Regions from separate parts of the Homo sapiens genome. Here all the other regions are linked to region 3. Evidence: fine-mapped expression QTL. A gene starts in region 3. Each other region holds a variant in brackets. All regions are shown on one strand. Distances are between the middles of the regions. Region 1 overlaps TTLL13 (tubulin tyrosine ligase like 13). Region 2 has its middle 27 kb from the start of NGRN. Region 3 holds the start of CIB1 (calcium and integrin binding 1).

The links. PIP is the estimated chance that this variant, and not a neighbour inherited with it, causes the effect. A credible set is the group of variants that fine-mapping cannot tell apart.
Region 1: its variant is the best candidate, but not a certain one, in a credible set for the expression of CIB1 in adrenal gland (GTEx, PIP 0.76).
Region 2: its variant is the best candidate, but not a certain one, in a credible set for the expression of CIB1 in hypothalamus (GTEx, PIP 0.79).

Annotation. Positions count from the first base shown.
Region 1 is chr15:90,261,946-90,264,699 of GRCh38, forward strand. TTLL13 (tubulin tyrosine ligase like 13) reads left to right here. Exons shown (of 15, transcript NM_001396017.1): 11 at 61-246; 12 at 547-724; 13 at 1,021-1,200; 14 at 2,002-2,113. It also overlaps a transcript of CIB1 not described here. Among named protein-coding and RNA genes, the nearest start is that of NGRN, 2.3 kb to the right of the region's middle. RefSeq lists an enhancer at 2,739-2,754. The variant G/A (reference allele first, on the strand shown) is at 1,371.
Region 2 is chr15:90,291,228-90,293,981 of GRCh38, forward strand. It overlaps the pseudogene GOLGA2P8 and the pseudogene RN7SL736P. Among named protein-coding and RNA genes, the nearest start is that of NGRN, 27 kb to the left of the region's middle. RefSeq lists enhancers at 1,986-2,145, 1,989-2,489, 2,490-2,754. The variant G/A (reference allele first, on the strand shown) is at 1,285.
Region 3 is chr15:90,232,856-90,235,609 of GRCh38, forward strand. It overlaps CIB1 (calcium and integrin binding 1), which reads right to left and starts at 1,086. Exons shown (of 7, transcript NM_006384.4): 1 at 980-1,086; 2 at 814-848. The coding sequence starts at 1,030. It overlaps GDPGP1 (GDP-D-glucose phosphorylase 1), which reads left to right and starts at 1,354. Exons shown (of 4, transcript NM_001013657.3): 1 at 1,354-1,437; 2 at 1,667-1,741. RefSeq lists silencers at 579-1,028, 1,049-1,488.

The DNA.
Region 1 (2,754 bases), 29 kb after region 3:
CTTTCCCTACTGAACATTCCCACAGCCCTACTCTTGACTCACTGAGCTTGCTTTCCACAGGAAAGAAAAAACTGAGTCATCCCATGTGGCAATGCTGGACCAGGAACGATATGAGGATTCTCACCTGGGAAAATACCGGCGGATCTACCCTGGGCCTGACACAGAGAAGTATGCCCGCTTCTTCAAGCACAATGGCTCCCTCTTCCAAGAGACTGCTGCTTCCAAGGCCAGAGAGGAGTGTGCCAGGTACTTTGACCGACATTCTCCTCTGCACACCTAGGTGGGGACAAGTCCTGAAGCTGCATTGCTTCCCAGCAGGGAAAGAGGAAGCCAGACACCAGCAAAGAGGAATGGAGCTATAAATCCTATCAGACTCTTAGTGACTCTTTTCAGTTTAGTAGGTTTCCTATCTTCCCCTCTCATTGCTCTCGCATCAGTCCTAAGAACAGATTGTAATTTCCTGCTCTTTCCTCATCCCCATTTTTCCTCACCCCTCTTCTCCCCAACACCATTTCTCTACTGTCTGAAGCTGCTGTGTCTTGTCAGGCAGCAACTAGAGGAGATCCGCCTTAAGCAGGAACAGCAGGAGACCTCGGGCACTAAGAGGCAAAAGGCCAGGGACCAGAACCAGGGTGAATCAGCTGGGGAGAAAAGCCGACCCAGGGCAGGGCTCCAGAGCCTTTCCACCCACTTGGCTTACAGGAACCGCAACTGGGAGAAAGAGGTGCCAGGGGTTTTGTAGCTCTTATCTTTCCACAGGAAAATGGGTTGGGACAACTAGATAGGGGAATGAATCTCTGCTGTCTTCTCCTCCCCATGCACAAGAGAGAGAGGAGTTCCTAATCAGTAAATTGAATCCGATCCTTTGGAAGATGAAGTGAGAGAATGGACAGCAAAAGGAACCTTCCTGGGTCAGGGAAGGGATGAGGGTAGAGTGGGCAGGAGGCCTGTAGCCATCCTGGGTGATGGTTTGGGACTTATCCTTGGAGATCCTGCATTTATCTCTCATGTACCTTGTAGCTGCTGCCGGGACAGCTGGACACCATGAGGCCTCAAGAAATTGTGGAAGAGGAGGAGCTGGAGCGGATGAAGGCCCTGCTACAAAGGGAGACTCTCATCCGAAGCCTGGGTATTGTAGAGCAGCTCACCCGTCTGCAGCACCCTGGCCCCCAGGGCCAGAAAAAACTTCATGAGAGTCGGGTGAGGGTCCCTGTGAAGTCTCCCAGAGGAAAAGGGAACAAGGGCTGTCATTCCAGGACATGGTGTTGGTCTCAACAAAGGAGGCTTGTGTGATGGTATCTGTCAGTGGAGCCTGGGAAAGCAGAGTGCGCTAGCTGGACCTTGGGAGAGGGTCTGTTGATTCCTTTTGC[G/A]TCTGTTCCCAAGCTCCTTTGTTTTAGATATGACATCCAGCAAGTTGCAGCTCCAAACCTTCTCATTTACAGGAAACTTGCTCTCTATATTCCTGTCCCAAAATAACCCCACACTCATGACTGACAAATAACAAGCCCACCACCCTCAGTGGCTTCTGTATAATTTTCTCCCTAGCACTGCCAGTGCCCCAGCTCTAATGGGAGATAAGTAAACAGATTTGGGCCAACAAAAGAGCTGCCGCTTTCACTATTCCCTGGGCTGGTAGCAAACCTGTTGGGTCTTCTGTTTTTGTTGAACCCCAAAGGAGTATCTGGTTAAATAGTGGCCGCGGCCTAGAAGAGATTTTTTTCAGTTACCTCCTTCTTCCAACGCTCCATCCAAACTTACATAAAAATGTGGTAAGGGGCTGCTCTTCTCCTCTAGCCTAGATTTTGCTAGGACAGGCTGGGCAGTCAAGAACTGAAATCTATGAGTCTGGTCCTACTGGTGCTCCTAAGAGGGGCTGCCACAGAGCAGGGCGCTCCTCATTTCCTGCATCCAGTTCTGCCCCATGAATCAATCCCCAGGATCTTAGGGGCACTGCCAAGCATGAATGCTGCAATCCCACATGTTCCCCGGTACCATCTGCAGCCCAAGAACTTCAACTGGACAGGAGAGCCGGCAGCCATCAACTCCTGTTCATTGTCAATGAAGAAGGCTGGGAGGTGCTATTTTTCCAGTGCCAGAATCAGGCTCACTAGCCGTAAGTATGCAAAACTAGCTTTGGTCATTTTGACATATGTAAATCCCACTAGCAAGCATAGAGCTTGGATGCCCCTAAAATATAATATGGCACTTCCACCAGTGTAAGAATGGGGAAGTTAGGGTACCCATTTATTTACTCCTTTTTTTTTGAGACAAGGTCACGCTCTGTCGCCAAGGCTGAAGTACAATGGCTTGATCTCACTTCACTGCAAACTCCACTCACGGGCTCAAGTAATTCTCCTGACTCAGCCTCCTGAGTAGCTGGGACTATAGGCACACACCACCATGCTCGGCTAACTTTTGTATATTTTGTTTTTGCCACGTAGCCCAGGCTGGTCTTGAACTCCTGATCCACCTGAATCAGTCTCCCAAAGTGCTAGGATTACAGGTGTAAGCCACCGCACCAGGCCTATTTAATCCTTTCTGTACACTAGACCCTGGTGATAGAAATGGCAGAAATACAGTCCCAGCACTCAAGAGGTAATAGGAACATGGACAAAAAGACATACCATACCAATTACAATACAGTGTGGGAAAGACAGTGGAGGGAAGCATGAGATGCCCTTCCTCTGTGTTGGTAATTGGGCCACAGTTGGGAAAGAGGTGAACAAATCTCTTCTGTGAATACCAACTCAGGGA
Region 2 (2,754 bases), 58 kb after region 3:
ATTACAGGCGTAAGCCACCGCACCCAGCCCAAAAGCTTTGTGTTTTTCAAGATATTTGACATGTTTCTTGTTTTAAAAAAAAAATCTTAATAATGTAGGAGAATAAAAGAAACGTTTTTCCAAAAAAAGAGAAATCATTGTGATTATTTTATCTTATTGGAATGTTGGATACTATAGCCTGCTTCATTAATCATCAAGCATGCTATGGATTTTCCATTTTTATAGGATCTGTATCTCAGTTAAGGTAATACTGGTAATTATTGTACTCCATTTGAAGATGAAAAATATAGGCCAAAATTATAGACCTTGCATAGAAGCTGGATAATGGAGACAGCTCTGGAGGAACACGTAGATACACACACACAGACACACATATATATAAAGAATACACACATACATTTTTTAAAGTTTATTTTTTACAGTTTTAAAGGTTTTAAAGCAAAAGCCGGCCCCTCCCCTCTGAGTGGGCGGCCCCTCCCTCTCTCTGAGTGGTCGGGTACAGCGGTTGCATGGGCAGCTTTCCTTGTGAACCACAGGTCCTTCTGGACACGGTGCTACCTGGCCACGCCTCCTTTCCCTTTCATATTTCTCATTGACCAATGGGCTTGGAGCATTAAGGCCACGCCCCTATTCTGCATTCTAGTGGGGCCCCGGTTATGCCTCTTCTGGCTCAGTTGCACAGCTGCCTGGTAGGTGACTGGAGGCATTCATCAGTGCTCACTGGGATTTCACTGATGTGGCCCAACCCCGCCTCCCTCCACACCCCATGATGTCAGAAAAAACACGACAGGGCAAATGGGCCGCAGCCAGGAAAAAGGTAAAACGCACCAGGTCATGGCCCCCAACCCAGCCACAGATCCCCTCCGACAACAAGACCGTTGCCGGAGTCCATACCACCCCTGAGGCACACTGGACTGGGCCCCCCAACCCCAGCCCTCCTCCCTAGCCCGCCAGGCCTTTGTTTCCCCACCTGTAAAATGGGGCAGTGTAGCCCTCACATGAAATGGTACTTCTAAGGCACCTGTGAGCCGGAGCCCTGCTCTGATGGCTGTGGGAGAGAGGGGATGATTTTTCTAACCTCCCTCCACCCTTCCCAGTGCTATGGGAGGCAGACACCAAGTTCTGGGGTCTCCAGTTGCAGCGGGTGGCTGCTGATTGCTTCTCTCTGTCCAGAACGAGAACAAGAGCGCACTGCAGTTGGAGCAGCAAGTAAAGGAGCTGCAGGAGAAGCTGGGCTAGCTGAAGGGGACGGTAACCTCCGACCCGTCCAAGAAGGTCTGGGAG[G/A]CGGGCACCAGCCTCTGGGGAGGGGAGGTGCCAGGCCAGAGGCAGCTGCAGCCTGGGGGCAGGTGACCCCAGCACCCTCCAGGGCAGTCCTATGACTGTTTCTTGCTTCCTGCCCTCTGACTTTTAGAGGTGGGTAGCCCTGGCTCCTCCCAGGTCTGGACATCATCATCCCAGCTAGAGGCATGGAGCCCTCCAATCACAGAGGAAGAGACAGTGGCATAAGAGGCTCCTTATACCAGGTGCAGTGGCTCACACTTGTAATCCCAGCATTTTGGGAGGCTGAGGCAGGAGAATCACTTGAGATCAGGAGTTTGAGACCAGCCTGGCCAAAATGGCAAAACCTTATCTCTACAAAATTACAAAAAAAAAAAAAAAAAAAAATTAGCCGGGCATGGTGGTGCATGCCTGTAATCCCAGCTACTCAGGAGGCTGAGACATGAGAATCACTTGAGCCCAGGAGGTGGAGGTTGCAGTGAGCTGAGATCGCACCACTGCACTCCAGCCTGGGACACAGAGTGACACTGTCCCAAAACAAAATATGAAAAAAACCAAAACGACTCCTTAGATTCAAACTGGATTCCGGCCTCGGTTCCACTGGTCATCATTCAACTACTTTCCATCTCTAAGTCTCTGTTTCTTTAACTTCAAAAGGAAGTGAGCTTTTTCTTCGCAGAGGTGCCGAGGGTTAAATGAGATAATACGTGGAAACATTAGGCATGTAGCACACTTAGCAGATGGTGGTTGGCTCCCTCTGCTTTTCCACCAGTCTGTGGCCTACAGTTTAAATGGCTGGAAGAAGAACGTGAGATTTGAGGCTGGGGAAGGAGGCATGGGGTTCTAGGCAAGGGAGGCAGTCTCTTAGGCCTGGAGCAAGGGGCCAGGGGCCTGGGCAGGCCACAGAGCCCCACAGTGCCCTCACTACCCTATTAATGGGCCAGGAATCTGGAAGCCAGCCACCAGCTGCCCTCATGCCCAGGGACTTCCAGCAGGTGGAGCTGAAGAGCCAAGAGGCTCAGAGTCTGCAGCAGCAGCGAGGCCAGTACCTGGGTCACCTGAAGCAGTACGTGGCCACTTATCAGCAGCAGGTGGCAGCCTATCAGCAGCTGACCTCTGAGAAGGAGGCGCTGCACAGGCAGTTACTGCTGCAGACCCGGCTCATTGGACCAGCTGCAGCAGCAGGAAGCTCAGGGCAAAGCAGTGGCTAAGATGGCCCGCCAAAAGTTGCAGGAGACCCAGGGGAGGGAGTTGCTGAGGACGGGGCCCCAAGAGGGACAACCTGGCAACCTCTGTGCCTTCTCACCCTCTTTCCTGGCATCTCAGGAGCACCTGGAAGCTACCAGCCAGCAGAACCAGCAACTACAGGCCCAGTTGAGCCTCATGGCTCTCCCTGGGGAAGGTACGGGACACCACTCAGAGGAAGAGGAGAGAGCCCCAGGAGGAAAGGGGGACTGTTAGCACTGTAGGATTGAG
Region 3 (2,754 bases):
GGAGGCAGAGCCTGCAGTGAGCCAAGATCGTGCCCCAGCACTCCAGCCTGGGCGACAGAGCGAGACGCTGTCTCAAAAAAAAAAAAACGGAGAAAAGAGCAAAACCAAAAATCTCATTCTCACCTTCACTCCAGGGATCTCTTACCCTCAAAGCCTCCTTTTTAGCAACCACACTGAACTGTCCTCCTCGGCCTCCACCTCCTTCCCATGAGCTTATCTTTGCCACAGGAACCTGGCCTGCATAAATCCGGCAAAAGGGCTTCCAGCCCAAGTTCAAATCTACTTACTCAGAGTGTTGTCTTAAGCAGTTACCAAACCTTTCTGAACCTGTTTCATTGTCCAGTACCTCTCTCCTAAAGATTAAATTAGGTAACGCAGGCAACCATTTAGCACAGTCCCTGGCACATGGTGAGTGCTCAGAAAGCGATAACGGTTACTGTATTATTCAGGTAAAGTTGGGAGAAGGAGCCGGGCTCCCCAAGGCTTCTGTGGTTTAGCCACTGGGCAAGGTCGGCCCCTGCCGGACTGGGGCAGGAAGTTCGGCAGTGCTGAAGCTAGTGGAGCCCAGGGTCAAAGAGCGCCTAACTTTTCCTGGAGGCTGTAAGGTGGCTCCGCGGTGCCACGCTGGGGCCTCAGGCGAGGGCGGGGAGGGCGTGCCGGGAGGAGGGCGCAGCCCGGGCTAGGTCTCCCGGCCTCCAGCTCCCGCTCCTCTGCAGACCTCAGGCCAGCCCCCGCCCCTCCCTCGGGACAGCGCCCCCGAAGCTGTCTCTAGAGGATCCCGGGGTCGGAGGCAGGGTTCAAGGCAGCACTTACAGGAGGATCTCCTGCTTCGTCAGGAACGTCAAGTCCTGGAAGGCAAAGCCAGAGCGGGGATTAGCGGACCGCTGGGAGGCCGCGGCCGCCCCGCAGCCAGCTCCCGGACCCTGCTCCCGAGAAGAGGCCCGCACGCGAGCTCCCCAGGGCCAGGCGTCCCGCGCACCTGGTACTCGGCCAGCAGCTCCTTGGACAGGCGACTGCCCGAGCCCCCCATCGCCCCGCCGCGCGCACAGCTCCGCCAACTCGCCTCGAGACGCAGACAACTTTCTCACTTCCGCCCTTGGGCCGCGTCACTGCCCGGTCCCCGCGGCAACCGCTCCTGGGGCCACCACCCCCGGGCCCGCCCCCTCCTAAAAGCTGCCAGGCGTTCCCAGCCGGGTTTGGCAGGCGAGCTGCCGGCTCCAAGCGGTCCTAGGCGAGCTGGAGGCGGGGCCCGGGGAGGGGCCCGACGCTCCGGGGCGGAGCCCGGGACTCACGGCCCCGCCTCCGGGGTGGGAGGGGGGGGCGGGCCACGCCGCGCGCGTGCGTGCTGGCTGCGTATGCGTCACGGGCGTCATGACCTCGCTGTGGCCCCGGCAGCGGCTGCGGGGAAAGTCGCGAGGTGCATCCGCTTCGGCTGCAGTAGGTGGTGGCGGCGGCAGCCCTGGGTGGGGTCCCATAGGGGCATCTGAGAAGTCACTGGAGCTAGCGTTTCCGGGAAACCTGGAGACTCGCTGAGTGGCGGGGGTCGTCGGCTGCCCCTCTGCCCAGCAAGGGCTTTTCTAGATGTTATCATCAGGCAATCGCTGCACCTGTCGCAGCCCCCAAGCCACCTCTTCCAGAAGTAACCATAACCTTGCTTCCTTCTTAGGCTATTTACTGAGGACCCACTGGATGTCAAGCATTGTGCATAGTTTTCTTCGATTGTTGCAACATCCCTTGCGAGGTAGGTTCCCATTTTACAAAGATGGAAATACGTAAGTCCAAAGGGTGTTAGTGATTTTTCCGGGCGCCGGCATTTAGAAGGTAATCGGTCCAGTCCAAGGCACTTTTAAAGGCTCTCCACTGCTGTTCTCATCATTCCAGCTGACCTGCCGTCCTTTTGACTCCATCTCACCCCTAGACTGCTGACCCTTTGCTCTTGTCCCCTCTTAACCTCTAGGATAATGTTTGGCACATAGTAGGCTCTCAGTAAATATTATCGAATGCATAATAAATGAATGAACGTATACTATTGCAAAAGGTAAGGATTCCAAACTGCTGGGAGGAGGAAGTGGAGGTTGTGTTGGTCAGGCTGGGATTAATTCTTGATCCTTCCAATCCATTATACTTGCTGATCTTTGTAAAGTCTAAATCTGAGTATGTTAGTCTCAGTTTATAACCATTAAATGGTTAAAAACCCAAATCCTGGCCCTCTGTAACTGGACTTCCTCCTATTGGCTCTCTGTCTTTCAGCCACTTTGGGCCCTCAGTCCCTCTTCCATCTCATCCTCAGGGAAGCCTTTCCTGACTCCCTAGACTGCCTAGGAATCTACTTTACACTGGAAGAATACCCAGTGCTCTCCTTGGCAGCATGTGTTTGATAAGACACACTGTATTAACAGGTACATTCCATCATTGTAGAAATATTCAAGGCCAGGCGCGGTGGCTCATGCCTGTAATCTCAGCACTTTGGGAGGCTGAAGCAGGCGGATCATTTGAGGCCAGGAGTTCAAGACCAGCATGGCCAACATGGCAAAACCCCATCTCTACTAAAAATACAAAAATTAGCCAGACATGGTTAAACCTGGGAGCTGGAGGTTGCAGTGAGCGGAGATTGTGCCACTGCAGTCCAGCCTGGGCAACAGAGTGAGACTCTGTCTCAAAAAATAAAAATAAAAAAAAATAACTAGGGTATAGGCCCATCCCAACCTGATCATTTTTCTCTTTTTTTTTGAGACAGAGTCTCGCTGTGTCGCC